4 linked regions of the Homo sapiens genome follow. The protein of the gene in region 2 binds, or shares a complex with, the protein of the main gene of each other region. Links are inferred from orthologs where the notes say so. Each region holds a gene or a part of one and is shown on either strand. Other genes may lie near its edges.

Region 1 (8,418 bases), on a different chromosome or scaffold from region 2:
CAGCAAAAGGAAGTTGTGAGTCCTAAGGTGGTGAAGAAGGCCAGTATAAAGCCTCTCAACCCAGAGCCCCATCTGGACCATGTGGTGCAGAGATGGTCTTCTCGCTTTAGGCTCCCATCCACACACTAAAAAGGGATGGCTATCTGGGCTAACCGGGTCACTCACATAGAAGTCCCCTTACTTTGACCTTGGAGGCCTGGCCTGTGGAATTTGCTCCAAAGTCGCAGTCACCTACCCCCAAACCCACCCCAGCCCTTGCTTTATCACCAATCTGCAAAGAACTAAACAGGAAATATGAGAAACCAGAATTCCCTTCTTTAGTCTTGCCTGGGTTTCTTACTAGGGGTGGAGTTGAGGAGGATGTGTAAGAGGACAAGCCCTCCAACCTGTGGCCTTCCCTCCTCTGATGGCATCTGAAGGCAGGGGCTTCCACTGTCCTTCCCTCAGGTCCCATGTTTACAGGCTTCAACAAGGAGGGATTTTCTCTCAACATAGTCTAATGGGTAAATGCTCAGCTTCCAGAGTCACAAAGACATGGGGTTGACTTCCTGTTTTGGCAAATACTAGCTAAGGGACCAAGCCTCAGTTTCTTCTTGTTTAAAAAGGGGAAAGTAAGGGTCGAATGATATAATGTATCTATGCTCCTTACCATAAGTCACCTGGCACATAAAAATGATGAATAAATATTAATTATTAATTTTGTGGTGACAGTAATATAGTGAAATGCCCTATACTACCTCATAAGGTCCCCAGATGAAAGCTATCTTGGATGCTCTTTAGGGTGAGCAGCAGGAAGGGACACTGGCAAGGAGAATCCTGGTTCAGGGCAAAGCACATGACTGTTAGGGGTGACCTAAGTTGAAATCCCAACTCTGCCACTTACTAACTGATCTCAGTCAGGGTAGTTAACCTCCCTAAGCCTCAGTGTCCATCTATTTTAACTGGGGATAATTAAATTGGGAGACTGTTTCTTGGAGTTGATGTGAGAATGTAATCTCACAGTAGATACTCTATGTTAGTTTTCTTCCTTCCTATGATGTTGAAAGTGGGAAAGAAACAGGAAGCAGCAAGGGACAACAGGGGGGTCATACTTAGATGCTGTTGCCCAGCATCCTTGCAAACAGAGTCCCAAGACACCCCTATCTATGTTTCAACTAATTCCAGTAGCTGGGCCCACATTAACTACCTCCAGAAGAACAAGGGAAGATCCAGAAAAGGGGGACCTGGAACCCAAGTAAAGTGGAGGAAAGATGGAAAGCTAAGAAAGAGGTGATGACTGTCCACTGCCACCTTGCTTCAGAATGTCATAGATAGGCCCCCTTTCCACAGATGGGGGTGAGAATGGAAATGACTGTCAAATGCATACATTTCCAACATGAGGTTCTAAGGCCTACAGTTGCATCCCATCCCTCCAGGGCCTCCCTTCCTAATCCCCCTTAATCCTTTCTGCTCCTCCTCCAGGAGTCAAGGAAGAAGGAGTCCACAAACACCGCATTGCGTAGGAGGCGGATGTAGAATAAAGGGGGTTTGGGTGTCCCCCCAAAAAAGACATTCTCCAGAGGAAGGCATGGGATAGCCCCCTTCCTTCATAGGAGCAGAGGAAGCAGGCCTAGATTCTGATCAGAAATCATCCCCCTAAAAATATCCTGCCTCCGGTGCTCCCACCCATCCAGGGCCTTCATTAAAACACACACACACACACACACACGCACACACACACACACGCCCTGGTAGAAGACGGTAAGCAATGCTATGTGGTTCAGAGAGAAGCACTGGCAAGCAGCGCCTTATCCCCTCAGGACAGATGTAAGCAGTGGACCACGGTGACCAGAAGCAGTGACCCCTATGTCACCTTTTCTTCATGGTTCAGGGCCCAACCATCCCCCATGAAAGAGCTGGAACTGCGGAATCCCCTCAGCGCATGGCAATTTGCTAGCTTTCCTCTCTTTCCTAACCAGGATCTCCCCTCCAGCCCTGAAGGAGGCAGGACCCACCAGGAGCCATACTCTATGTTTGTTGACCCTATTTCCCCCTGAGAGGGGCACGTAGGGCAGGGAAGCCTTCCACAACCACAGCAGGATATGAGGTCTCAACAGCCAGCTTCCTCAGGGCCAGCAAGCCCAGGAGGTCAGGAGAGAAAGAAAGAAGACAAATTCTTTGAGCTGGTGAGGAAGTGGTGCTATTTTTAGCCCCCAAAACAGCACAGGGTGGCTAAGCCTGGGGGAGTGAGACAAGACTTGGAGAGGTGGAGGTTAAAGGAGACAAGGTTCAGGGTTACAAGGTCCTAGGCTGGCTGACTTCACCTGACAGGAAAAAATGTGCCCAGGAGATTTTCTGCAGAGGGTGGAGACAGGCAGGGGACTCCAGAGCAAATGCTTTCTTTCAGAACAGCTCATCCAGCCCTGGGTCCAGAACCCCCCACCCTCCCAGTCAAAGCCCCTGACTTTGGGGTCCACCCAGATCCCCAGGCCTTCCTAGCTCAGGTGACAAGGTCATTAAAAAGCAATCACTTATCAAAACGTCCGCGGGGGCGGGGGTAGAATGTGGGAGGTGCGGGAGCACCCCTTCCCCATGACAGCCCGGTCATCGAACTTCAGCCCCCACCCAGGACCATCAAGACTGCGCCTCCCCTCCCCACATCCTACCAAGGTTAGGAAGATAGGAGCACCCACAGTTCTGAGGGATAAAAATGAGGGTGTCAGCTGAGAATGCACACTGAGGAATACGGAGAGGCAGAGAGGGGGACGCAGGGAGAGACCTCCGCATGCACAGACATAGAGACCGCCCCTATCAGCATTTGCAGCGACCCCCCCACACCCCATCTTGCCTCAGCTCCGGAATAAGGGAAAAGCCCCCAGAACTGACTAAATCCCTGCTCTGAGCACCTCCTCCACCCTTGGTCCTGCTGCTAGACAAGTGTCCACCTTCACTCAACATCCCTTCCCCCCACCCCGGAGCAACTGCCGCCAGCCCCCGCCATCCATGCCCCCAACACCTGGCGGCTCTACATCTCTGTCTCCCCAGTATTTCCATTCTTCACTCCCCTTCCCTCCATCCTTCACCTGCCCTTCTTCCCCTGCCCCCCACCCACCCAAGTCCAGGCGTGCACACTGAGGCAGCATCCATTCTCCAGCCCCAGCCAAGGTCATTTATCATTCATCCTGGGGGTGGGGGGACGTCAAGGTGAGGAGGGGATAGGAGTTTGAGGGAACCTCATCCCACCTCACAACCCCACCACCACGTTAATCTCCGAAGGGGATAGTGGGGACTTGGTTAAGGTAGAGAAAAACACCCCTCCTCCCCATTCACCAATATTATACATATGCGTGTGTGTGTGTGTGTCCTGAAGAGCACAACTGAAATAAATGTCCATCCCCAAACCACCACCAACCCACCAACCCCCCTCACCCCTAGAGAGGGGATCGTCACCCTCCCCATAAGCAAAGCATCGGAGGATAAAATGGCTGCAAGGCAAGGCAAAGATGCTTCTGCCAGGGGCGGGGAGGAGGTGAGCGACTGAGAAAGGGGTCTCACCTGGTCTAGGTTCCCCGGGTAAGGAGTCCCGGGCGAGGACGGGGGTCCCGGCCGCGGGCGGAGGCGGCAGCGGCGACTGCTCCCGGCACCAGGGAAGCGGCAATGCAGACCTGCCACCCCCCTTCCACCACTCCAGCCCCGCCTCCGCCCCCCCCTACCCCGCGCCACTGAGCATCGGGAGAGACCATTGGTGGGGAGAGGAGAAAAGAGGATGGGGAGGGAGTCAGGGCACGGGGAGAAATGATGAAAGGGCCGGAGGTTGTCACAAGAACAGCTGGAAATGGCACCCAGCCCTTCCCAGGCCCTTCCTAGTAAAAGATAGAAGGAACTAAAGAAAAAAACAGTGATGTTAGGAAGACAAGTGGGAAGACAGGGAGATGGGGAATGTGGCAGCCCCTTCCTTAGCACCCCAGTCTCAGTATGGCAGGACCCAATAATTTCAGGGGCTTTTGCTGCCTTCAAAACACCTCCCTTGCCTTCTCCACTGCTCTCAAACTCCTTTTTCACAACAGTCTCCCAAATCCAGAGTGCTCCTATTCCAAGTTTACCTGGACATTTTAGAGAAAGCAGAGATAACAAGGTGTGGTTTCTATCCTGAACTGCCAGAGTCAGAGACCCCTGGATTCCTTCCATCTCTTTCCTCACAAAACAGTCCAGGTTACTTATTTACAGTGGACACCTCCTCATCCTGTCCATTCAGTTGGTGGTAGCAGAAGTACTGGGGAAGTTGAGGGATTTTTACAGACCTGACCAACCGGACAGTTCCCCTTCCATTAATTTGCTCCAATGACTCAAAAAGGATCCTCTCAATACCCTTCTCCATTTTCTCTTACTCTCCTCTACCTCCCTCCCCTCCCCTCCACACACTTGTACTTCCCGGGCAGGAAGAAGTAAATTGTTTCAGCTTTTCCCTTCATCTTTCCTTTGCTCTTGCATCAATAACCTGGACTCAGAGATCCAAGACATGCCACTTGGTGACACTTGATGACCATCCCTGCCGAAGGAGTGAGAGGGAATATGGTGATTTGGGGAAATACATCCTGAATGTGTCTATGCCAGATAAGGTCAGGACCTTCCAGACAGCACTGACCTGGGCTTGGACCTGGGTTCTCACTGCTAACAAGCTGTCAACTCTTGGTCAAGTTCTCCACATCTGTGAACTTCAGGTTTCTCATCTGGAAAAGGGGGGCTTGGACTAGATACTGCATCAGGTCCCTCTCAGATCTAATAGCGTGTGATTCTGCCTTACTAAATGTGGAGGCTTCAGAATGCTGATATATATACATGGAGAAGGCTGACAGGCTATGTCCGAAGAGACCACACAGGTAACATTTGCCAGGTTGAATTTACCTCTGACAGGGACACGGGCCTGGGCTTTGCAGACTCCAAAGCTGGATCTTGGAAATAATCATTCATGCCAACAAAGTTCACAATCTTCTGAAATATAAAGCCATAATACATAAATATTAATTTATCATAAATATTTAACTGTCACTCAGACTGAAAACTCATATCTACATGTCTAGTACATTCTCTCCCTGAAGCCAAATCAGAATCATAATGTCAATGTATAAATGCACAATGACATTACTGGAGGATTTGTATCTTTAATGGCATCTGGCCATCTGCAATAAGCAGCCATGCCAATGGGTCCAGAAAACTCTTCTTGGCAACAATCTTCTACCCCCACCTCTTTGCTATTGGCAGCCTTGCCAGCACTCCTGGACTACTCTGAATGTGACGGCTTTCCAGGATGGTGCTTGGACTGGCCTCAGGGACTCTCCCTTTACTAGACTTTCATTGCTGACCCGTCTTCAGGTTAACACACATTCTTTTTCTTTTTTTTTTTTTTTTTGAGACAGAGTCTCACTCTGTCGCCCAGGCTGGAGTGCAGTGGCGCAATCTCAGCTCACTGTAACCTCCACCTCCGGTGTTCAAGTGATTCTCCTGCCTCAGCCTTCCCAGTAGCTGGGACTACAGGCACGAGCCACCACACCCAGTTAACTTTTTTTTTTTTTTTTGAGACAGAGTCTTGCTCCGTCGCCCAGGCTGGAGTGCAGTGGCACAATCTCGGCTCACTGCAAGCTCCGCCTCCCGGGTTCATGCCATTCTCCTGCCTCAGCCTCCCGAGTAGCTGGGACTACAGGTGCCCGCCACCACACCCGGCTAATTTTTTGTATTTTTAGGAGAGACGGGGTTTCACTGTGTTAGCCAGGATGGTCTCGATCTCCTGACCTTGTGATCCGCCCGCCTCAGCCTCCCAAAGTGCTGGGATTACAGGCGTGAGCCACTGCGCCTGGCTAACTTTTGTATTGTTAATGGAGACAGGGTTTCACCGTGTTGGCCAGGCTGCTCTCGAACTCCGGACCTCAAGTGATCCACTCACCTCTGCCTCCCAAAGTGCTGGGATTACAGGCGTGAGCCACCGCACCCAGCCAAATATGTTAACATTTTCAATTAGGTTATAGCCAAGTCCAGCAGGAGAGCATTTGGCCAGCAGGGAGCCATTTCTTCCCTTTAAGGTGACTTTGCCTACTCTCCACTGATACCTTATTTGCTAAAATAGAAATCTTGCATACTTTTAGAGTGAAAACTTATACCATCAGTCCTCCATATCCATGGGTTTGGCATCCATGGATTCAACCAACTGTGGATGGAAAATGTAGTTAGGCCTATGATGGTTGCATTTGTACTGAACATGTATAGACATTCTCCTCTTGACATTTATTTCCTAAACAATACAGTATAACAACTACTTGCATAGTATTTACACTGCATTAGGTGTCACAAGTAATCTAGAGATGATTTAAAACACACTGGAGGATGTGCCTAGGTTATATGCAAATGTGCCATTTTATATAAGAGATTTGAGCATTTGTGAATTTTGATTATCTGTGGAGGGTCCTGGAACCAATCCCTTGAGAATACACAAATGACTGTATATATTTTCAAGTTCTGAGGGAAGACCTCATCATTTTCCCCCAGGTGCCAGTGCCCTGTCCCACCAACCACTCCTTTGTAGTCCCCTTTGCTGGGGCCATTTAATTTTAGAGTTCCTATGGGCTCAGTCCCAGGGGCGGGAAGCCTTCTACTCTCTTCTTGCTCACCACAGGCAGTCCCGACTTTAATACTGCCTATATGCTGATGATTCCCATTTATATCTGCAGTCCAGACCTTCCCATCAAGCCCAGACTCAAAATCTCTGTCTATTCAATATCACCACACGAACATCTAATAAGCATATCAAACTGGGGCAGCTAGAATTTCCGAGCCAACAGCCTCCAGGCTGAAGCAGCTGCCTCCCCTTACCTCAATTTTGTTTCAAATGGTTCCCTGCCATGATGTGAAAAAGGGCTGAAAAATGGTTTTTGGGAGCTCCCTAACTGGCTCTGACCTCAGCCTGCCTCCAATCCCAAACAGCTCTAGTGCATTATACACCATGCTATTTATCAATCTGTTTCTCCTCAGAAACATCCCATCCACCTGGATTGAATTTCTCCTTGCCTGGGAAAGGTCTATCCTTCCTTGAAGATTAAATGCAGGTATCACCTTTTTCCCAGGAAGTTTTCCTGGACTTTTCTTTTTTTAAGGTGGGAGGTGGGGGACAGTTTCGCTCTTGTTGCCCAGGCTGGAGTGCAATGGCTTGATCTCGGCTCACTGCAACCTCCACCTACCAGATTTAAGCGATTCTCCTGTCTCAGCCTCCTGAGTAGCTGGGATTACAGGCGCCCACCACTGCACCTGGCTAATTTTTGGTATTTCTAGTAGAGACGGAGTTTCACCATGTTGCCCAGGCTGGTCTCGAACTCCTGACCTCAGGTGGTCTGCCCGCCTCAGCCTCCCAAAGTGCTGGGCTTACAGGCGTGAGCCACTGTGCCTGGCCGTTTTCCTGGACTTTCATGCCAGAATAGGTAACTTTCTTCCTGCTCTCAAAATATTTTGTTTCATTAACAATCTCTTATGTGTCAGTTTTGACAGCAGAACTGCCTTGCTTATCTTTGAATCCTCAGCTGCCACCAACAGACATCCTTTGCAGGTACCATAAAAATGTTAATGAGAATGATGGACGAGAACAAGGGGGCCATGCTCACTTCTTGCCTAGAATTTAGTAAAGTTCACAGTTACATAAGCCAGAGGGCACTTCAAGGAAGGGGTGACTTAACAGGATTAATGTGGCAAAGAACATGGGGGAGAAAAAGGCCATTGGATTTGGTCTACTGAAAAGTCTTTAAACTGAGATTTACACGTGATGAAAATCAAGTTTGGAAGGACTGAGAAATGAGAAAAAAAATTGAAATACAAACTCCTTATCTGAGATGACTGTTTACAGACATCTGTAGGAACAGAACAAAATGGAACACGTATGGAACATTTACTGTCTCCATTTACTCATTTTGTTTTGTAATTATGTAAGACATCTATATTGTTCCAAATGAAAAACACATTAACACAGTATACTCAGAGAATCCAGCTTCCCTCAATATCCACTCCCTCCCCAGTGTTATCAATTTCCATTAGTATTTGGTTTATCCTTTTTTTTTTTTTTTTTTTTTTGAGACAGAGTCTCGCTCTGTCGCCCAGGCTGGAGTGCAATGGCGTGATCTCGGCTCACTGCAGCCTCCGCCTCCCAGGTTCAAGTGATTCTCCTGCCTCAGCCTCCTGAGTAGCTGGTTTACCCATTTTTAAAAACGTTAATACATATATATATATATATGCTACCCTTAGAGAAGGTAGCACACTACACACATTATTTTCTTCACTTGGAGATCTCTCCACAGCAGTACGTAGAGATCTTCACTTGGAGATCCTTTTTAAAGCTTTTTTTACATTCCTTTTTACAGCTGCACAGTACTCTGCTGCATGAATTTATCAGTTTATTCAACC
Region 2 (4,650 bases):
GTGGGCTTCAGCGTCCAGTACAGTAGGCACTTGATAAATGTTAAATTTAGTGGAGGAAAAGTATTTACTTGTTTCCCATAGCGATCGTAGTAGGCATAGAATTTAATGTGTCATACTGTCCTCTGAAACTGGGGTTTAAATAGTTTTGTTTTCCGTCCCATTCTGGAGAAGCTGTGTGACTTGGGTTCTGGAGTGAAAACCCTGAAGGACACATGCTGGGCAAAGTGAAAAGCCTCAGAGTACGCCAGATGAACTGATGACACACAGGAATAGAGAAACACATGTTGAGAATGACACTGCCCAGGAACACCACGCGGTCATGGCCAAATGCTCCCGGGTGTTGTTTTCCCTCTAGCTATTCTGTACTCAGATGTGACTCAGATGCTGGCATTCAGTGCAGTTTTGTTTAGCTGCTGCTGCTTCCAGGAGTCCCCCAAAGTCAATAGGCCATTGGCTTACCACCAGAGTCAGGCAAGGAAAAGAGTGGGAACGCAGCAACATCAACAGGAAATAAAACATTTTTATTGAATATCTGTGTAATATGTTAAGTCATTTTTAACAACAATCAGAAAACTACTGTGGAATTCACTACACAAAGTGAAACAAAATTTAAATCACCTCATCAAAAATGAAGGTAAAATACAGCTGAAATAGTTGGCTCGCAGGCCACGAGCCATATGGCAGAGGAAAACACCCCAACATTTCTACAAGATACAGGGAAAACCCACACATAGAAACACTCAAGCAGGCAGTAAATATACACAAAGGCAACTAGGATCTTTCTAGAGCATCAGATTCTAATACTTTACACAGCTTTGTCAGAAGGGTACATGTGGCTTATTTGAGGATGAATCTTGGTCATAAAGCAGGTTCCATCACTGACTTGTGAAAGAGTGAAAGATGGCATAGTACCAACTAATTCTATGGTGACAATCCCATGTCTGGCAGTGTTGCAAGAGAATGCATTAGTGGTATTTTAATGCAAGAAATAATGTCTATTCAGCAGCTTGAACCTGCTTGTTTGAAAGTGTGGTTTCATTGTGAACAACTTAAAGCTGAATACAGTGAAATTAAATGTCATTTGTGGTATTTAAATACTTTTTAAAAGCCAGTCAACTCCCTCTCTTTGGTAGGGTTTGGCCCTTTAAATTGGAAAGAGTCTTGTTTGAATTTTCTGTTCAAACCATTATTTAATTTCACATTCTGACTTGTGTATATTTTCTATTACCTATGTTTTTTAAGAAGTACGGACCATCGGCAGACGGTTATTTTCCTTTTATCCTTTATGTCTATGCCAATTATAAAGCGTTTGCTATGTCTGGCCTAAAAGGCAAAAGAGCTTGCCCCTTCTTTGATAAGGAAACAGTAACGACAGGAATTCCAGTTTTACTGGGAAACAGCCAACCCCATGTTCAAAGCCTACCATCAGCCCTTTTTGAATTCTCTTTAGTTTTTGAAAAGACGTGGTGTGATATCCTGAAGACTGAACATGAGGCCAATGCTTAGTTTTCCTCCATTTTGTTTTGATATTTGTGAAGACAAACTTTCATTTCAGAGCATCACTACTGTCTTGTGGCCTGGAAATTAAAATGGATCACAGAAGTGAATGGGACAAAAGGCTAGATGCAGTGTGGGATAATAGGCTGCCCTTCCACGAAATGGTTGTCTACCATAGTGGGGAAAAATATGGAATATTGCACAGTGCTTGACAAAATGCTGTGTTCCACCCCATTCTATGTATCTTCCTTGTCCTATGCATAGCTTTTCAGTTCTGAATTGGTCCTTTGTAATGAGAACTGTTTGTGCTACACACACCTTGGGCAGTGCAGTAGAAGGGAATGGCAGTATTGTTACAATATCACTACGGAATAAATTGAGTGCTATCCACTGAGGAAACTACGGGTCTAAGCACACACGGCAGTCACAGTGTTACACAGAGCAGTCCTTTAAGACTCTTATGGAATGACTAGTAGCTTCATAATAGTGTCATTTACTACATAATAACATTGAAAACGTTTAAAAACTCCTCCTAAATCAAGCATCTAGTATACATAAGAGGTTGCTTCAGTTTTCTAGAACTTGTTCTTGGTTTGTTTCACCTTTTTTTAAAGGACAAATTAAAACTTAAGTAAAAAGAGCATATAAAAAGATCACTAGCTGTCTGTTTTGGCTTAATTGAAGTGCATTCAGAACTATGGCTAATTGTTGTTGGTTTTTGTTTTTGTTTTTCTTTCATCTTTTGATGGGATTACAATACTGTCTGTTTACCACAAAGTAATTTTGTGTAATAAGCACAGATTGTTGTGTTAAAAATATCCTGCATTCCTTCTAACCTGGTTTTATATAATAAAATATTTTGTTACAAACTCTAATGTGCAAACCTTTTGGAATTATTGTAGGTGTGAAATCTGGAACAGAATTCACAGGATGTACATTTTGTATAAAGGTGATAATGGAGAGCTACTTTTTTCTTTTTAAATAGTCAGGCAATATTTCATAAATGTTGACTTCTCCCCTTAGCTTCTTCTCCCCCATCCCCAAACAAATGTGCACACACACACACACACACACACACACACACACACGGAACACCTTGTTGTTATTCTATATGCAGTAATATGAAATCATTGACTCCTGTTCAGTTGCTTCCTCAAATATAAGAGTGAAGCCATTATTTTAGCTTTGTAAATATGTACAGACAGGTGCTATTCTGTTTTGTGGCTATGCTTCCTTGAGGTCAGCCTGGATGCTGCTGCTCAGATCATGCTATTTTGCCTGTGTAGGAATTCTACAAAATTGGATTCACCCACCAAGTATGTGGTGTAAGTTTATCTTGGTACTCAAATGATTCAATAGAAAGCTCAGGTTTAAGTTGTCCTTTAAGATGTCAGTTTAACTGTACTAGTGCCTTACGAGTTGATATTTTTGCTGGAATGCAGACGATACTATATTTACCGTATAATATATTATCAGCTCTCCTATATCTCAGTCAATTTACATAGTTTAAAATAGAACATCTTATTAAAAACATCTAGATATACACAGATTAGGAAACGCTTACAACATACAAATACACAAACTAGAAATAAATCTTTAGCATACTGGTATATACAACAGTGTGATACAATAAATAATTTCATTCATGCTCTATCTACACATCATATTGCTTAAAAGAAGAGTAGATTTGGAGGGCAGTGGTATGATGAAGGACTTAGGGGCTCTCTACATTTAAATTTGTGCAAATTAAAACAGGATTCCAAGTACCACTGAATTGTGTTAGGAATGCATGGCTGGAAAAATGAAAGGACCCATATTACTGAGGTATTTACAGATACTGGCTAAAGAGCACTATATGGGCAAATGCAGAAAGGCTTCTTCTTTCCTTTACTTCTTGACGGCCAGCATGGCATCAACTTCCTCCTCTACCTGCAGGGTGTGCCACTGGGCAATAGGTCGCCTGGGGTTGGCCAGCATGTCTGACCAGTGTCGCAGCTCCGCGCCGGTGCTGTTGTAGCCCACAAAGACTTTGCCGATGGCATCGTTCTTGCCAATCTTGTCATAGTCCAAAACAGTTACCACCACCTGCACTTTCTGAAAGAAGCCATGAAATGAATATGAATCATCTAGCTCTAGAGATAAGGCCCGACTATAAAGCGTCCTTGAGCGCTAAAGAATTGGAAATAGAAGAATCAATCTCCAAGCACTAGGATGAGGATGAAAATGACTTGAATCTTAATACTCAAACGTTAATTTTTATTATATACTTTGCACTAAGTCTTTTACATGAATGAACTCAGTTACTTCTCATAATAGATCCTATTAATATTGCCATTATACAGGTAAGGATGCTTGAAGCTCTGAGAAGTTATATAACCTGTCTGAGGTTGTTTAAGGAATGAGTTGTTTGGTTTTCAGAGCCTATGCTGTGAACCTCCATGCCATGGAGTCTGTGTCAACTTGTGCTAACCTCTAAATTCATTTGCTTCAGTTGTCTTATCAGTGAAAGTTCTGGCATTGGTGTTCAGCCCACTCTATTTGATTACAATTCCCAAGGCAACCATGTGCAATAATCTGATTTTAAGGGTGGGGGGACAGCATGTTACAAAAAAATTAATATAGAATTAATATAGAATTTCAACTAATCATATGATTGTGAGCATAAAACATGATAGTATAGTGAAAAGTATGGTTAAAAAGTAGTAATAAAGATATTTTTTTCTCATCCATACGTTCTCTTAGTAAACATTTACTGAGTAACTACAATGTATCTGGCATTGATATCAAATGGAAATATCAGTTTAGGCTACACGGGATTTATTCAATGATTCCATCAGATTTTGAAAGTTTATTTGATGACTTCCTTTTCTGAATGATTGAACTGATGAAAGCAAACCTATACCATTATGGTATAAAATATATACTTTTTAAAAGCAAATTTCAGTTCTACTTCCTAAGTAATGAATTTACTTAGCAGAATATGTGATGGTTTCAATCTAGCAGCTGAGTGTAAAGGTAAGAGTTTAAAATAAATGGAATATGTAACATTTATTGCCAGAGTTGAAAGTAGCAGAAAATGTAATTATAAAAGCTAGGGCCAGATTAAGAACCAGCTGAGTTAGGGCCCTTTAGTGGACTTTATATGCTGGAGAC
Region 3 (7,915 bases), on a different chromosome or scaffold from region 2:
ACAATTTCTAAAAATGATACACCTATATGCGTACATATTTTTAAAAGTCATATATGTGGCTAAAGTTAGAACAGAATCTCAAGATTAGATGTAATTTATAGGCACAAAAATAATTACAAATAAAGTTTTATGTAGATAATTCCTTTGTATATTAAGAATTGCTCTAATTTGCTTAAAGTGATACAATCGTCTGTGATTTCTTGAGAGCACAGACTTGGAAATTCTATTATTCTCTGCTTCCCAGACCAGACTACAGAGGTGGCTTGGGCTGGGAAGGAGGGTGAAGGTGTCTTCATGGCTATCTGGCAACTTAAATACAGCATCTCCCTCATTCTGTGCCTTTCTGATAGGCTACATCCACACTGGAATCTAGGGGATCATGGCCCAAGGAAACATCATAGCAACTAGGAAAGGATGTATCAGCATAAGGGATTTGTTCCTTTATCTTAAAATACTGTCACTTCTTACCTCTTCAACCAGTTGCAGCATACGACGGGTGCTTTCCAGCGACTAAGATTTAAAAAACAAACAAACATAAACTTTATGAGTGCAGGATCCAGAGATCTTGGAAAATCAGAAATACTTTATTTACTTGAGAAACACAAAGGGTCTCTGTCACATATTCTTTTCAGTTGGCAAGTGAAACAAAAAATGTCATTACATTTTCAAACTCTTTCCTATCAGGCTTTTTACATGATCAGATTCCCTAAAGCAATTACATTACAGCTTATCTTCAGAAAATAAAAACCATATGAAGCTGATCTTGATATCAAAGACAAAGTAATCTGGAGAAGATAATTTTGCATGCTCAGAATGCATGAAAAATTATCTCAATTACTCAGAGGACTAATTTGGCCTCCCTGGGCCAGGAACATTAAATTTTAAACACAAACATAATTTTTCATGAATCGAGATGAATATAACATCAAGTTTCTTACAAAGCTCCTAGAAACACAATTGGAAGTTCTTATCAATACAAATTAAGTTGTTGCCTTAGGGTGAAAAAAATCAAGCATGTTTGAAATGACCAGCCTATAGGAGAGAGCTATAATAATTATCTTCATCCTTAGATAAGAAAAAACGAGACGGAAAGGCTGAGCTCTGCAATGGTCCCCCGGGCACTGCGTTGTCACTTTTTTCTCAGTTCTTTTGAAACGACTAGAATCCAACAACCAGTGTGATTTCTCAAAGCTTTGCTTTTAACTGACAAACTTATTTTGAACAAGATTCTGCAGGAACCTGAAGGATGTTAACTTCCCTGGAAGAGCTGTCAGCCAGCTGCTTTTTGAAATAGAATGGCTGCAAGCAGCAGTCTGCTGGTAAAGGTTTAACTACCGGCTCTCTGGGAAAAATACACAAATACATACATGTATTCAAGTTTATTATTTTACTGATATAAAGGATGAATAGCACAAAATTTATAAATAATAATAAAATATACAATACTCTCTTTATTGTAAATTCCGCATAGCCAATTGATTCTCACAGAAAACTTTTACTGATTTTTGCTGAACTTTTGTGTCTACAGCTAACCATGTGATGAACCAGAGTAGTTCTGACATGAATGTTGGTTGGATATTTTCATGTATATTAATGAGTAAGAAGAAAATTAAACAATGAAGGCATGTGTTGGAATTGTACTCATTTGTGAATGACAAAAAGGATTTCTTTGCCTTAGAGAATCATAATTTTCAAATACTGGAAGATTTCCTCTTTTTGTGTTATTCATAGTATAATGGCTGCAGACATACATACTTTTAACTTTAATCTGCATTATTAATATTTTCTCTACTTTTTAAAGTCTAGACAATCAGCAAAACAATAAGTCAAGTCCTGATCTGCAGTATTTGCAGATTCTTGGGTGATAAATACTCTTACTCTGTCTGATTTTTAAATTTTTAAATATTTTTAGAGATGGGAGTCTCTCTATGTTGCTCAGGCTGGTCATGAACTCTTGGCCTATGCGATCCTCCTGCCTCAGCCTCCCAAGTAGCCGAGATCACAGGTGAGAGCCGCTGTACCCAGCTCTGCCTGATTTTAAGCTACAACTTCATATTACTGATCATGAAGTTGGAAAGACACATGGTAACACATTATTATACCTTATTTCCACCCTACAGATAAAATGGATGAATCTCAAGATCATGGATAATAGTAAAATGTAGCAAAATAATTAGGAAGTGATGAAGTTTGAGTGTTTATTACTTTTGATTTTAATAGAATCTATCTAATTGTCAGTTTATGTAATTCAGTTTTAATAATGGCTGCATTTAGCAACCAGCTTGCAAAGTTCCTGAAAATGTTAACAATCTGTTCTCGGAACTGAGCCTTCTCCAGCATAGCACTGAATTAAGGCACCCAAAGACATTGCTTTCTTTTCTTAGAGGACCTTGACTTCTCAAGGTTTCTGGAAATTGAGAGTTAGGGCCAAGACAGTAATTTGTATGCAGCTTCTATAATCAACTTATTCTGGTCCACAGAAGCCTTAGGTGTACAGAAAATCAAAGTCATATTACTTTTTCTAAAAGAAATTGAGACATTGAAAGAAAGGCTTTCCCTACCTGAACCTGAATAAGACAAACCACTCAGGCCTTCATCTTTTGCCTCCCTTCCTAGGTCTCCACTCCTTACCTCATCAGCCAACTGGTCAGCCCTTCGCTGCATCTCCTCCAGCTCATTGCGCATGTCTGCGTCTTCGGCCATGGTAGCGGTGGGGAGTGGCTGGGCGCCTGGGCTGGGGGGTCAGTGACGGGTTTGGCTCTGGACCTGGGAAGAAGTAGATATGAAAATATGAGAGCTTATATATGTTCATGTAGGTGTGTGCAAAGACCAGAAAATCTAAATGGCCCATACTCAGTCCACATGACTCAGTTTTCTGATCTGAAAGCCATACTCAGACAGGGGTCAACAGAATTGTGCTGTTTCTCCGAAGGATGCCACAAATACATACTTGCCAATTCTGCCATGGAGATAGACACCTATCTACCGATGAAATATTTTTAAAGAGACAAACTACCCAAGGGTTGGGAATGATGAGGTTGGAGGGATGTGGTTTGGGGTTAGTGTACTTTTATCATCACATTTATTTATTTATTTATTTATTTATTTATTTATTTATTTATTTAAATAGCTCTATTAAGGTATAACAGATATACAGTCCACCCCACATATTTGAAGTGTACAACTTGAGAAGTTTTGACATATGTATACACCCAGGAAACCATGACTGCAATCAAAACAATGAACATAGCCATTACTCCTCCAAATTTCCTACCCACCCACTGGCCCCTGCCCTATCCCACATGTCTATGCCCAGAAAACTGCTGATCTACTTTCTTTTTTTTATTTTTTTGAGACAGAGTCTCGCTCTGTCGCCCAGGCTGGAGTGCAGTGGCGTGATCTCAGCTCACTGCAAGCTCTGCCTCCCGGGTTCACGCCATTCTCCTGCCTCAGCCTCCCGAGTAGCTGGGACTACAGGTGCCTACCACCACACCTGGCTAATTTTTTGTATTTTTAGTAGAGACGGGGTTTCACTGTGTTGGCCAGGATGGTCTCGATCTCCTGACCTTGTGATCCGCCTGCCTTGGCCTCCCAAAGTGCTGGGATTACAGGCGTGAGCCACCGCACCCAGCCTGATCTACTTTCTGTCACTATACATTAGTTTGCATTTCCTATAATTTTATATAAATAAAAATCACATAGTGTGTACTACTTTTTGTCTGCCTTCTTTCACTTAGCATAATTATTTTGAGATTTATCTATGTTGCAGCATGTATTAATAGTTCATTCAATTTTTGTTGTTGAATAGTGTTCCATTGTGTTTAGAAGCATGTGGAAGCCAAAGGCAGAAAATCTTTCATCTATTTCAGTCATCATCAGAGGTTGCCAAAAGGGCTTGTGTGAGGGTGAGCTGCTATCACTCCAAAGAGGGTGGGTCCTTGGTCCTGAAAGGTGACCAGTCCATTTCTTGGCTACTCTCTTGAAATCCCACATGGTACAAATGACAGGTACAAGGACTGGGTCTATTCCGGAGAGAGCCCTCCTTCCTCCTTCCTTCTCAAATATTTATTGAGCACCTGTAATATGCCAGGCAGTGTTAGGCACTAGGGATACAGTGATGGACAAGATAGGCAAATTCCCTGCCTTTACAGAATTCAGTCTAATTGGGGAGATGCAAGCAAAAGAGGGAATTAGATGATTCAGGATGATGATAATTACACTAGGGGACATGTCTGGTATCATGGGTGCCCATGGGTTTGCAACAGGCCTTTCTGAGGAAGCCATGTCCCCAGGCCATCGAAGGGAAGGGGGCAAAGGGCCCGATGGGGTAGGTATCTGATAGAATGAAAAATTCTCTGTGAGTAGCACATTTGAAGAAGGCATGGGCTCTTGTCTTGTAGCGGAGATGGTCAACTGTGCACTTTAACCTCACTGTTGCATGGTAGAGCATGATCTCTGGGAAATGGCTGTGCAGCCAGGAATTACATTTCTAATTCCCATTGCAAGGAAGTGGTGCTCTGTGGCTAGAGACAGTCCATGAGTGGTAGTAGAACAAAGTGTGTCCCTGTCAGTCTAAGGCAGTTCAGAAGCAGGTATTCTCCTCCCTCTGTTTCTCCTTCTGCCAGAAATACAGTCTTAAAGGATGGTTAAGCCATGAGACCATGAGACAGAAGGAACTTGGGCCCTCCATATCCCTGCATGGAGAAAAATGACTCCTGGCCAGTAACACCTGAACTCTTACGTGAGCAAACAATATATTTCTATTATGCTATGGAAAATGTGAGGGTTGTTTTGTTATAGCAGCCTGTGTTACACTAACTAGTAAATGTCTGAAGAAACTTAAAATGAAACAGAAACATTGCATATGAGCATGATTTCCTAACCAAAAAACATATTTTTGTTTGTCTTTCTATTGAAAACCGAAGCTGGGAGAGGAAATTAGATTTGGGGCCTTGGGGCACTACCATGTTTATTATTATTATTATTTGCATGAGAATGAGAATCACTTTTCGGAAAAATAAAAATGAAAATTCTGTATGAAAAAAAAAATCAGGAACATACTCATTGGGAGGCAAGGGAACAAAAGTTCCCAGAGGCAGGTCCTAGATCTGATCCTGGGGGAGGAGGCTCTGCCATCTCACCCTCCAGGTCCACGATTCTATTGCTTTCTCAACAAGGATGGAATTTTAGTACATATTAATATCACTTTCCAAATTTATTGCTCTTGTGAAAAAGGAGAAATCATACTCTTTAGGGTTCTTAGAAGGAATCCTAAAGTGAAACTTCTTTGGAGATAACAGGTTTCACCGTTCTCTACCCAGTGATTGCCGGGCAAAGCAACAAATATGGAATCTGAGTAAAAAAAGAAATAACAAAACTTCAGGGTTGCCTTATTCTACCACTGGCATTAAACAAATAATGGAGTAAGTTTATGTGAGGTTAGCTTTATGGGCAGTCATTTTATAACTGACAGAGCATCTTACGATGAGCCTGCTAATTTTCGAATGCGTGTTCTGGCCACTAGAACATGTGCTCGTGAGATGATGTAGAGATGTGAACACTGTGTTTTATTTAAATACATGAGACTTTATTTCCATGTCTCCATTTTACAAATTAGGATCTAGAAAACAGACACTGGAAGGAATTTACACCAAGTCACTCCAGAATCTTAAGATGCACAAAAATGAAATTTTAGTATTCCCAAGTGACCGGGGATCTACCCTCCAGAATAAAGCAGTGGACCCGTGGGGAAGTTGAGTAGACTATGGACCATAGTTCAGTGGAGTGGGTGGATAAAGGCATTGATGTCAGAAAGACCCAGCTGGACCGCTGGCTCTGGCGCTCAGAAGCTGGGTGAGTCTGGGTAAGTTCATCACCATCTCTGAGCTTTAGTTTTCTCAACAGGACAAACAATGCCAATCTCATGGGGTTGTTGAGGGGAATAAATTACAGAAAAGTTCTGGCCAACATTTTTTGTAAAAAAGGATGTGGAGCTTAATATTCAGAAAGCCTCACTAATTCAGGACAGCCCTACACCCTTGGCTAAGAGTGGAACAAACCCGGTATTTGTTAATCAGCTTTCCTCTACTAACGGCTAGGCACAAGACATGTTGCTGTGGTGCTGAGCACCCATGGAAGCTTGAAACCAGGGAAACCAGCAGAGTGCCTGAGCCTCCAGTCTCCAAGCAGCACCTCTCACAGGAGTACCACGAGGAGACAAACAAGAGTGCCTTCTGGCCCCACGCTCCATCTTTATATTTTGCTGCTGGGTTCCTGGGGGGGAAATGTGTATCTTCGGCCTAAGCAAGCCATTGACCTTTCCTTTTCACAGGCCAGTTTATTAGAAGGCAGGGGTCCATGTGCTTTCAGACTTGTAGTGCTATTGCTCTGTCCCACTCCTTCAGGTCTATTTGCTGATGAATGTTTCTGTGCATGCTCTCTCTCTTCTCTCTCTCTCTCTCGCTCTCCCTCTCTCTCACACATACTCAAGTTTCCTGTGTTTCCTTGGCAATCTCCTCTCAAAGTTGTTATTCTCAGCATGTGAAGAACAGCTGTAGGGCGCCCTGGCTCCAAGCTGACAGCAGCCTATCCAGGCCTGGCTGATGGGCAGCTGGTGCGATGGCGGAGAAGCCATGTGGCAGATACCCTTGGTTTCATCACTTTCACGGTTCCCCCAGGAACTCCCACACCTTTGTCCTGCTCTAAAACATGGAGATACGTCTGTGATTTGGGAGGAGGGCTGATGAATCTGGTGGATCTCAAACACACAGCATTTCAAAGCTGAAAAAGCAATTCCCCCTCTCCTAATAAGAACGGCTGGAGAGTGGGCGCTGAGCGTACCTCCAGATCTTCTGTTGGGATGTTTACTGCTAGTGTTTAATAAATTGTTCCTATAAACCCCAAACTCATGCATGTTAGCATTCTAAAAGACAGCAGCTGAAGAGGCATAAGGATGTTTATTAATAGTAATTTCAGTAGCTGAAAGGACGTTAGTAGTGAAGTGGCATTTATGATCAAGGCAGCCTGCAATACATCCCTCATATTAGCACAATAAACTGCCATCTTGTGTGTTGCAGAGCAGGTAGAAAGAGGAAACTAGGAAGCAGAAGAAATTAGGAAGAAAAGCCACTCAAAACTATTCCCCGAGGCTCTGATTGTAAGACAAACTCCCAGTCTATTAAGAGCCTAACAGTATCTAATTAATTATCTCAAATCACCAGTGCTTATTAGCAAAGGGTCTGACCCCTAGTAAGGGTTCAATTCATGTTAACTGACATGGATGAACTGTTCTGACACTCCCATGTAGCATTCAGTGTTCCCAAATCAGCACTTTACAAGGTGTGGTCCAGGACAGAGCTTCTGAAACTTCCCCCAGAGTCAGAATATGCAGAAACCTTGTTAAAATGGATTGCTGGGCCCTACCCTCAGGGATTCTAATTCAGTTGGTCTGAAATGGGGTCACTGATTCTGCATTTCTTTCTTTCTTTTTTTTTTTTGAGACAGAGTTTCACTCTGTCACCTTGGCTGGAGTGCAGTGGTGCCATCTCAGCTCACTGCAACCTCTGCCTCCTGGTTCAAGTAATTCTGCTGCCTCAGCCTCCCAAGCAGCTGGGATTACAGGTGCATGCCACCACGCCCAGCTAATTTTTTGTATTTTTAGTAGAGATAGGGTTTCACCATGTTGGCCAGGCTGGTCTCGAACTCCTCACCTCAAGAGATCCACCTGCCTTGGCCTCCCAAAGTGCTGGTATTACAGGCGTGAGCCATCGTGGCCAGCTGATTCTGCATTTCCAGCCAGCCTTCAGGTGATGCTGAAGCTGCTGGTTCACAGAGCACACGTTGAGTAGCTCTGGTCTGTAGGACCTTCTCTCTTGGAATGTTCATGAGCATCACCAGGTGGGGTGGTGGGAGTCCT
Region 4 (8,678 bases), on a different chromosome or scaffold from region 2:
TGGACGGGGCCAGGGGCTGTGGGATACACATACCCTAGGCAGCAGCTTCTCCCGTATCACCTCGTGGGAGCCTCTGAAGCTTCCTGAAGCTTCCTGGAGGCAGCTCAGAGAGAGGCCACACAGGGCCAGGCTGCCCACTCCACACGTGTGTCCCTGGCCCAGCAGGAGCCCCTGAGCAGGGGGAGCTGAGACCCAGGAAGCCTTGGTTTGCAACGCACAACTTCTGTGCTGTGAACACCCCTGTCTGCTGGCCTCCAGCTGCCCAGGCACCTTCCCTGGAACTGGACACCCTCCCTCTGCTGGGCGCCGCTATGCTGTCTACACTGCTGGGGTGACTGCCCTGTCCTGCAGCACTGCCTTGGCGCCCACTGCCCTGTGAGACGGTGCTGCCCTCCCGCACCTTCCCAGGCCCACCCCACCCTAAGATGCCCCTGCTCTGCCCTCCAGGGACAGCCCCAGGGACTCACTTCCGCCACTGTGCCCCCACCACACCCATGGACACAAAGTCCGACAGTCAGGAGGTCAAGCCCTAGGGGACACAGAGAAGGCCACAGCCCGGCTGAGCCGTGCACGCCCTTTCCCTAAGTGAGCACCAGGGCTGCCGGAGGGGTCCCGTGCTCCTGGGGAGCCAAAATAGCTCCTCCTCCCACTTCCTGGGCATGAAATGCTCCCAAAAATACCCACATGCATGTGATGTGGCCTCACTCCAGGTGTCACTGGAGGAGAGGGAGGGAGGGAAGGGGCATTCGGCGTTCTGAGCCTGGCTTCAACCCAGCTCTCCCTGCCCTCTGCCCCCCGCCTACCCCTTCCGGCTCCATCACACGGCACTCAAGACCCTAAGGAGCATCTGAGGCTCTGGGTCCCAGGAGTGCAGGTGTTTGGCCCAGGATCCTCCCGGGAAACTTCTCCTCCCCACGACTGGCAGCTCCCAGGATCTCTTGCCCATCTCCAAATTCCAGCACCACCCACTGTGCTCACCACCCAGCCAGCCACACCCCTGGGCCAGCCCTGCCTCTCCCAGACGAGCTGTCTCTCACCCTGTCCTCCGGGAAGGCCCCTGAAGCCCCTCCTTCCTGCCCTGAGGTGTTGAGGCTGGGAGGGCGGAGTCCCTCGAGCAGCTGCAGCCCACAGCAAGGCCCCTTTCCTCCACAGCCTCTGGGTTTGTCCACCCCAAGCCCACTCCCCACGGGCGGCTCTTTTGTTGCCCTGGGTCCCTGGTGGATCAGGGTCCCCGGCTGAAGGAGGCCAGATCCACACCCCACACTCAGCGCAGGGCTGGAGCCGGTGGCTCCCCCTGAAGCTGGAGGGCCCTGGCCTGGCGGGTGGGCTGCCCGGGACCTGGCCTTGCCCAGCTCAGAGGCTCCCTCCAGCCAGGGGTGAGTGCCGCTGACCCGGCTACCTGGTGCTGCTGACTGCATGGTTGGGACCATGCTGGGCCGCAAGAGATCAGCTCAGAGCGGGCCCCATGTGTGCCCTGGGGCACCATGAGATCTGGGCACCGTGTGACCGGGCAGCCGTGGATCCCAGGACCCCAGGGCAGGGCCTGGGGCACAAGCATTCGCTCAGCTGCGGCAGTACCTCTGCTCTGCTCCCAGGGGCCCACTAGGCTGACCTCCCAGGCGCTGGCTTCCCCCGGCTAGATGCTGGACCTCTCTCACCCAGTGGAGGAGGGGAACGGGTTCAGGGCGCTTCCCAGGCGAGGACACCCTCCACTCAGCCCAGGTCCTGCCCCAGCTCTGGCAAACGGCAAGGGTCTACATCTTGCTTTGCTCACGCTTTTCACGTGTTGTTACTTTTGGAATATCAAAATCCAGCAGGAAAATGACAGCGTGGATGGTGTCGGCACTCAGACTGAATCACTCAGCACATGTAACTATTAAGTTTGTGTTTGAAGGTTCTGGGTGGGTGCTGTGGGCCGGATCCACACATGCGGTGTGGCAGAGCGCTGCCCTCCTGCTGGGCCCATGGGGGACATGGCCCCCTGGCCACACCCCACGCCAGGACTGAAGGCCAACCCCAGGAAACCCTGACAGTGCTTCCCAGACCCTTTCCTGGCCCAAGGCAAGGAGGATGCCTGGCACCCAGGAGGGCTATGGGCAGATGGGACCCAGAAGATGGGAGCAGGGTGGCAGTGGAGGCCTTGGCAGGGGCTTCCAGAGAGGCTAGAGCTGGAGGTTGCAGCAGGGCAGCTGCCTCCTTTCCCTGCTGTCTGGAGTGACCCCGCAGGGTCTCAAACCCAGTGCCACATGGTCCTCACACAGTCCTGCTTTGTGCTCCTGGGGTCCCTGGCCTCACTGGGGCTGGGGATGGAGCATCTGAGGAGCAGAGGGCTGGCTGGGCCGGGGGTACCATCCATGTCCAACCGGCTGGCACAGGCCCCACAGCCAGGGCTCGGCCCAGCCAAGCACTCACACTTCTCCAAGCTGACCTCTGGGGGAGCCCTCGTTGGAGCTCCATCCTGCTCCTCCCGGACTTGCTCCACACCCCACCTCCTCCTTCTCCCAACATCCGCCTGGACGGGGTGGCCTCCAACTCTTCCCCGGCCTGCAAAATGTTTTCCCTGCCTGGATCTTCAACCTGGCCTTCAACCTGCTGGCCCCTTTCTCACTCAGCTCCTGCCCCTTTCCAGCCGGCTGGAGGTCTGCGGGGCTTCTTCTCCAGGGCTCAGGGCCTCCTCTGGGCACTCGAAGGGCCAACCGCACCTGCCCTGGTGTGGCCAAGTGGCCCGTGGGGGTTGGCAGAGGCCTTTTGCCGCGTCACCACCTTCTGCCACTGGAACGGAGCCTGGGTGGCTCCTGGCCAGCAGCCTGTGACTCCCATCCCAGCTGGGCAGCCCTGGCCTGGCTCACACACCCTGAGTGGGCACCACCCTGAAGCCCTCCAGCAGATGCCCACTTTCCCTTCCCCTGGCCCAGCTCACACACCCTGAGTGGGCACCACCCTCAACTCCTCCAGCAGATGCCCACTTTCCCTTCCCTAGGCCACTTGTCACTCTGACCTGGGGCTGTCACCAACCTTGTCTATTTCCCCCAAGTTGTGGCTGGGCCCCCCCACCCCCAGGTTAGGGCCTAGACAAGTGTGAGAGCTGAGAAGCAGTCACTGCATGTGTGGCTGGATGTAACAAGTAACAACAGGGACAGGCAGAGACAGAGAGAGACGGACACAGAGAGACAGAGACAGACACAGAGACAGAGAGATACAGCGACAGAGAAAGAAAAGACAGAAAGACAGAGACAGAGATAGAAAGAGACAGAGAGACAAAAAGACACAGAGACAGATACAGTGACAGAGAAAGACAGAGACAGAAAGATAGAGACAGAGAGACGGGCAGAAAGACACAGTGACAGAGAGATACAGCGACGGAGAAAGAGACAGAGAGAGAGGCAGAGGAAGACAGGGCAGAACGTGAGGGCTGGCAGAGGGTCTCTGTCCTCTGTGCCCCAGGCCCCAGCTCCAGGTGTGCTTGGAGCTCAGGCTGGCCTGGGTTGTAGAACGGGGAGGGGTCAGCCTAGGAGTCCAGTGCTTCTGCTCGGAAGAACGGGCACCTCCCTGCACTCCTGTGCAGACTGTCCCAAAGGCACCAGCATATCCCTTGCATGCAGCTTGTGGAGGTGGCAGGGTCAGTCATGAGCCTGGCTCTGGGCTCAGGGGGTCACCCCTGGGGTCCTCTCTGGGGTTACTGTCCGGGTTAGCTGTTGGGTTATCCACCCAGTTAGGGATGGAGAGAGAAAGCACCAGGGCCGAGAAGTGACCTCTTTCTTGGACCCGAACATCTCACCCTTGCTGTCCCCTCCCAGGTCCTGAGGAGACTAGAGGAGCAGATGGAGCAGAGCAGGCTGGGGCTCAGGCCGGGCCCCCAGGCATGTGTCCTGCCTCCTGTCCCTGGGCCCAACGTTCTGAGCCCACTTGGCTCAGATCCCGGGAGAGAGGAAGGGACGGTGCTGGGGGTGCCCATGGCTTCCAGCCAGGGAGGCTGAAGAGACCCCAATCCTAGGGCATGGGTCCCCCTCTGGGAGGTTGCCTGTGAACCCCCAGGCCCACGGGACCCTCATGGCTGTCTCAGGGAGCCCCCATGGGCTTGGCCCTGGTGCCTTCACCCTTCCCTCTCCCCCAGCGCTCCCTTCCTCTGCGAAGGGTCCCCTGCCAAGTCAGCAGAAGAGTGGGGACGGGGGCAGAGGCGCTGGGGCCAAGGCTGGGAGTCCAGGCCTCTGAGTCCTCCTGAGCTCAGGCTAAACACGGGGCACCGGAGGGGATGGGGCTGAGGGCGGGGGAGGGGCCGCATCTTCCCTGCGCCAGGGGAGTCCCCAGGACTCAGCAGGGAGGGGACAGTGACAAGTTAGTGCGGCGGCCACCGGCAGCGGCCCCCCTCCCCCCTCCCCACCCCCACCCCGCCAGGAGCACAGGGCAGCTCTAGGGTCGCGGTGCGCCCCATCCCTCCCGCCGCCTGGCTCCCGACACTGCACAGCGCGAACCGCAGGGCCGACCTTGCGGCGACCCCGCTCTCCCGCAGTGCCGCGTCCGCTGCAGAGGAAATCCCGGGGGCCAGGGGAGGGAGCGGTGGGGTCTCTGGCCTTCGTCCCGGTAAAGGAAACAGCGACTCCGTTACACCGAAAGTGAGCCCGGGCCGGCCTGCGGGTCTCTGGCTGCGAGGGGCTTGCGTGGGTTTTCAGGGGTCTGGGGGCCCCCTTCTCCCGCCCTGCGATACGGGGAGGTCGGGGCAGAGGGGTCGGGGCGGCGGGCGGCGCTCAGGGACACGGTCACCGGAGAATGGGGGCGGCAGCGACTCCCAACCCCTGGCCCCTCCGCTCGGGAGGCAGCGACTTCTCCGCCCGAGGGTTTTGCACCCACCGGCCCCGCGCGGACCCTGTAGGGAGCAGGCCCGCACCGTCGGGCTGGGGGCGGGGGGGCAGAGCCGGGGGCGCCCAGATCAGGGGCGGGCGGGGGTCGCAGGCGCCCGCCGGGGGAAGGTCGAGCCCGGGCCGGGTTGGAGGGAGGCGGGGGCGCGTCACTCGGGTCCACCCCCGCCCCCGCCCCCGGGTCCACCCCCGCCCCCGCCCCGGGTCCACCCCCCGCCCCCGCCCCCGCCCCCCGCCCCCGCCCCCGGGTCCACCCCCGCCCCCGCCCCGGGTCCACCCCCCGCCCCCGCCCCGGGTCCGCCCCCCGCCCCCGCCCCCCGCCCCCGCCCCCGGGTCCACCCCCCGCCCCCGCCCCGGGTCCACCCCCCGCCCCCCGCCCCCGGGTCCGCCTCCGCCCCCGCCCCCGGGTCCACCCCCGCCCCCGCCCGGCGCCCGCGGCCCCGCCCCTCGGCGCTCCCCTCCCCGTGCTCGTCACGCTCGGACGCGGGCGGGGGGCGGGGAGCGCCTGCGAGTGACGCGCCCTCCTCGCGGTGCCCTTCAGCCGCCGCCGCAGCTCACCGGGCGCCACATGGACCCAGCCGGCCCGAGCGCGCCCCGCCGCTGACCGCCCGCGCCCCGGGAAGGTAACCGCGCCCCGAGCGCAGCGCGCGCCCGGCCTCCGCTCCCCGGGTCTCCCCTCCCGGCCCCGGCGTCTCCTCCCCGGCCCCCGCTTCTCCCCGCTTCTCCCGCCGGCCCCGGTTTCTCCTTCCCGGCCCCCCTTCTCCCCGCGGCCCCGGCTTCGCCCAGCTCCTCCCCCCGGCCTCCGCTCCCCGGGTCTCTCCTCCCCGGCTCCGGCTTCTCCCCCCGGCTCCGGCCTCTCCCTCCGGCCCCCGTTTCTCCCCCCGACCCCGGCTTCTCCCCGCAGCCCCCGTTTCTCTCCCGGGCTCCGCGCGCGCGGGGTCCGGGGCGGGCGCTGTCCACTGCCGCGGTGCTGAAGCGGCCCCCGCGGTCCCGGCCCGCGCCCGGCCTCCTCCTCGCTTCTTCCTGTCTCGAGGCTCCCCCTCTCCTCCCTCGCCCTCTTTCTTTCCTCTCCTGGCGCGCTCCCGCCTGAGGGCCGCTCGCCCGCCCGCAAAGCCGAGGGGTGCGGGTGCGGCGGGGCCGGAGCCCTGCGGGTCTGCGGGGCCCGGCCGTGCCCTCCTTCCCCGCGCCGCGGGAGCCAGGGGAGAAGTTTGGAGGAGAATCGGCGCTGCGGCAAAGCCTCCGAGGGGCGCTCCCCGCCCGCCGCCCTCCCAGTCCCCGCGCGAGTCTCCTTCCTCTGCGGAGGGCGAGGGGTGAACCGTCAAACAGTGTCTCTCCAGGGACCTGGGGTTCCCCGATAGGAGAGACCCCGCAAAACCGGGGGGCTCACTGCGGCTGCTGTGATTTCAGAAAGCGGCTTCCCAAGAGGGGACCAGAGCGCCCCACCCCACCCCATGCACGCCCCCGGGGCGGGGGTGCTCTGTCCCCGTCCCCACGTGTTTCCTGAAGGCTGAGCCCCCTGAAGTTTCTCCCCAACCCCGATCTCTTCTACGCGGGCCATGTGGGGGGCACACTGACTGCAGTGCCGTCAGGGATAGGGTCACCCAAGCCTCCCTGGTCAGAAGCCACAGGAGCCCGCCCTGAAGGGTACCCGCTCAAAGACCCACCCCCAACCCTTCTCCACGGCCCTGGGCTCGGGACCACCGCGGAGGCGCCGCTCCAGACACTGAGCTGCAGAGCGGAGCAGTCACCTTCAAACGCCCCCTGGGCCCCGCCCCTGCTTCCGCAGCCTGGCGCCAGGCGCCTCTGAGCGATGCCCCCTAAGCCATCAGCAGCCCTCCCTGCAGAGGCTTCAGACACCCCAGGAGCTGGGGAGACCATTTTCAGGTCCTCTGGGGTCCTGGTTTGGGTGTGGGGACAGAAGCCCCTCACGAAGGACTTCCCAGGCAGCCGCTCCAGGTGGGGGAGGGTCCAGCCCACAAGGTATTGCGGGTAAGGAATGATGGTCTCTGGGGAAGGCCAGGCAGGGGCCTGCTTAGGGTGACCTGTGACCACTTCACTCTCCCCCAGGAAGAACACTCGCTCCCGGCCATACTTGCGTGTGAGTTCTGACCCCTGGAGGAGCCACTGTGGAAGCAGAGCAATCGCCATGGAGTTTGTGATGAAGCAGGCTCTAGGAGGTAGGAAGCGGGAGGTGGGGTGGGGAGGGGCTGAGGGGACATGGAGAGACCACCACAGCAGCTGCTCCTCATCTGGCCCACCGCAGCAGCGCCCCTGCAGCCACACGGCCACCCACGCAGCCCTGCACAGGAGCCTGGGGCAGAGGAGCAAGGACCGTGCCCAGCAGCGCCCCCAGCCCGGCCCTTTTCGAGGCCCCGAGCCAGAACTGGTGTTCCTGGCGGGACAGGGGCTGCCCTGTAAGCTCACTCTGCCCCACTGCTGTGGTCGGGGCAGAGCCCATGGACCATGCTGATGCACGTCCTGGGGGAGGGTGCACACTCTGGCGTAGGCTTTACAGGGCCAATTCTAACTGGCCAGGCTGGGCAGCCCCCAAGGGGGCTTCCTTCCAGATGAGGAGAGCCAAGCGGTGGGAGAGCAGGATGCAGGTGGCAGCCTCAGGGACAGGCGTGGGGACAGAGCTGGCCTGTGCATCTGGCGAGGACCCTGTGGGTTTCACTTGGGTGAGGCAGCGCCATCCTCAGGGACCAGGGCTTGCTGGTTACGGGAGCGAAGGAAAAGGCCCGAAACAGCTTGTGTGTCTCGACTGCCTCCCAGGCGGGACGTGCAGCCTTTTTTGTGTGTACTGGGGTGGGGCCAGGCCCCCTTCCAACCTGCTGTCTGCTATTTGAAAGGAACCTCGTCCCCACTTGACCCAAGGCTGTCATTGTGGCCAGAGACCATGTCAAGAGCAGTGGCTGGGTTCCTAGACCAGGAGGTGGGCAGGGCCTGGGCCATGCTGGTACAGACGTGTCCCGGCAGAGCTGATGGGTCAACTCAGGCCTCGGGGCTGTCGTGGCGAGTCTCAGTTTTGCCCAGAGCCGTCCATCCTGTGTTCCCCCAGCACCAGTGCCCAGAACTCCTGTGAGGGGAACCTGTGGCCGGTGCCCGATTCTACCACTAGAGACGTCTTGCTTGGGTGGCCTCCACGGGGGAGCACCCTCACCTGATGCCATTCACACCTTGGAGTGAGTCAGGCCTCCTGGGAGCATTTCTGCAGTGGGGGAGCTGGCCGGGTTCGAGGGGCCAGGGACAAGGGTGTACAGAGGGCAGGCGCCGCTTCCCCCAGGGCAGGAGCTGCCTGCCTGGCTGTCTCCCGGAGGGTGGCTGTGCTTCCACTCAACACAAATTAAATGAAAAGATATTGAGCCTGTCCTGGGGCCACATCCCTGAGATTTCGTGGTCAAGGGTAAGAGTCAGGTTGAGTCTAATTATAATGGCTGCGTCACCGGGCTGTGATTCAGGGACAAGCCTGCATCTGCGCTGGGAGGGACGCACGTTCCACCCAGGGAGTCCCAGGCTGTTACGGATAATTAATTAGTTGGCTAATTCAGGCCCTGAGGTGGGCTTGTAAGAAACTGAAATATCTTATTTGGCTGTCTACATGACTGAAATTAGCTGGGTAATTACCAGCCTGAATTCCCTTTTTGTTTCATGGCAGCCCAAAGTTTCTCCAGCAGCAGCAACCGGGCAGGCGTCGCTCAGCGTGGTGGAGCTGAGCGGGGGCAGCCAGCAGACCCTGGGGGGGCTCCACGCTGAGTGCTTCCCAGAGCACCCCACATTGGCTTTGCAGAGCACGTTGAGGCTCGGAGCCAGAGCTGCTGAGGG

What was found.
Region 1: the proteins of SYT1 (region 2) and SV2A are in contact, whole or in part, in a crystal structure (PDB 4V11), measured with the Homo sapiens proteins. Residues at the interface, in NP_001129277.1 of Homo sapiens: Thr291, Lys314, Lys326, Lys327, Lys328, Glu342, Ser343, Phe344, Ser345; in NP_001315603.1 of Homo sapiens: Asp82, Thr84, Glu85, Gly86, His87, Asp88.
Region 3: the proteins of SYT1 (region 2) and SNAP25 are in contact, whole or in part, in a crystal structure (PDB 5KJ8), measured with the Rattus norvegicus proteins. The link is inferred for Homo sapiens from one-to-one orthologs. Residues at the interface, in NP_001028852.2 of Rattus norvegicus: Cys277, Arg281, Lys288, Val292, Leu294, Glu295, Asn336, Tyr338, Asn340, Arg398, Arg399, Pro400, Ala402, Trp404; in NP_112253.1 of Rattus norvegicus: Lys40, Asp41, Ile44, Leu47, Val48, Asp51, Glu52, Glu55, Gln56, Arg59.
Region 4: the proteins of SYT1 (region 2) and CPLX1 are in contact, whole or in part, in a crystal structure (PDB 5W5C), measured with the Rattus norvegicus proteins. The link is inferred for Homo sapiens from one-to-one orthologs. Residues at the interface, in NP_001028852.2 of Rattus norvegicus: Glu271, Thr383, Gly384, Glu386, Thr406, Leu407, Gln408, Glu412, Met416; in NP_074055.1 of Rattus norvegicus: Val61, Met62, Gly65, Asp68, Lys69, Tyr70, Lys74.

What each region holds. Positions count from the first base shown.
Region 1 is NC_000001.11:149,914,205-149,922,622, forward strand, and holds the start of SV2A (synaptic vesicle glycoprotein 2A), read right to left. Parts: upstream 3,641-8,418; 5' UTR 3,535-3,640; intron 1-3,534. UniProt on the Homo sapiens protein: Plays a role in the control of regulated secretion in neural and endocrine cells, enhancing selectively low-frequency neurotransmission.
Region 2 is NC_000012.12:79,447,859-79,452,508, reverse strand, and holds the end of SYT1 (synaptotagmin-1), read right to left. Parts: intron 3,592-4,650; coding exon 3,385-3,591; 3' UTR 501-3,384; downstream 1-500. UniProt on the Homo sapiens protein: Calcium sensor that participates in triggering neurotransmitter release at the synapse. May have a regulatory role in the membrane interactions during trafficking of synaptic vesicles at the active zone of the synapse.
Region 3 is NC_000020.11:10,270,280-10,278,194, reverse strand, and holds part of SNAP25 (synaptosomal-associated protein 25), read right to left. Parts: intron 2,767-7,915; 5' UTR 2,704-2,766; coding exon 2,632-2,703; intron 511-2,631; coding exon 469-510; intron 1-468.
Region 4 is NC_000004.12:822,847-831,524, reverse strand, and holds the start of CPLX1 (complexin-1), read left to right. Parts: upstream 1-5,395; 5' UTR 5,396-5,479; intron 5,480-6,923; 5' UTR 6,924-7,002; coding exon 7,003-7,033; intron 7,034-8,678. UniProt on the Homo sapiens protein: Positively regulates a late step in exocytosis of various cytoplasmic vesicles, such as synaptic vesicles and other secretory vesicles.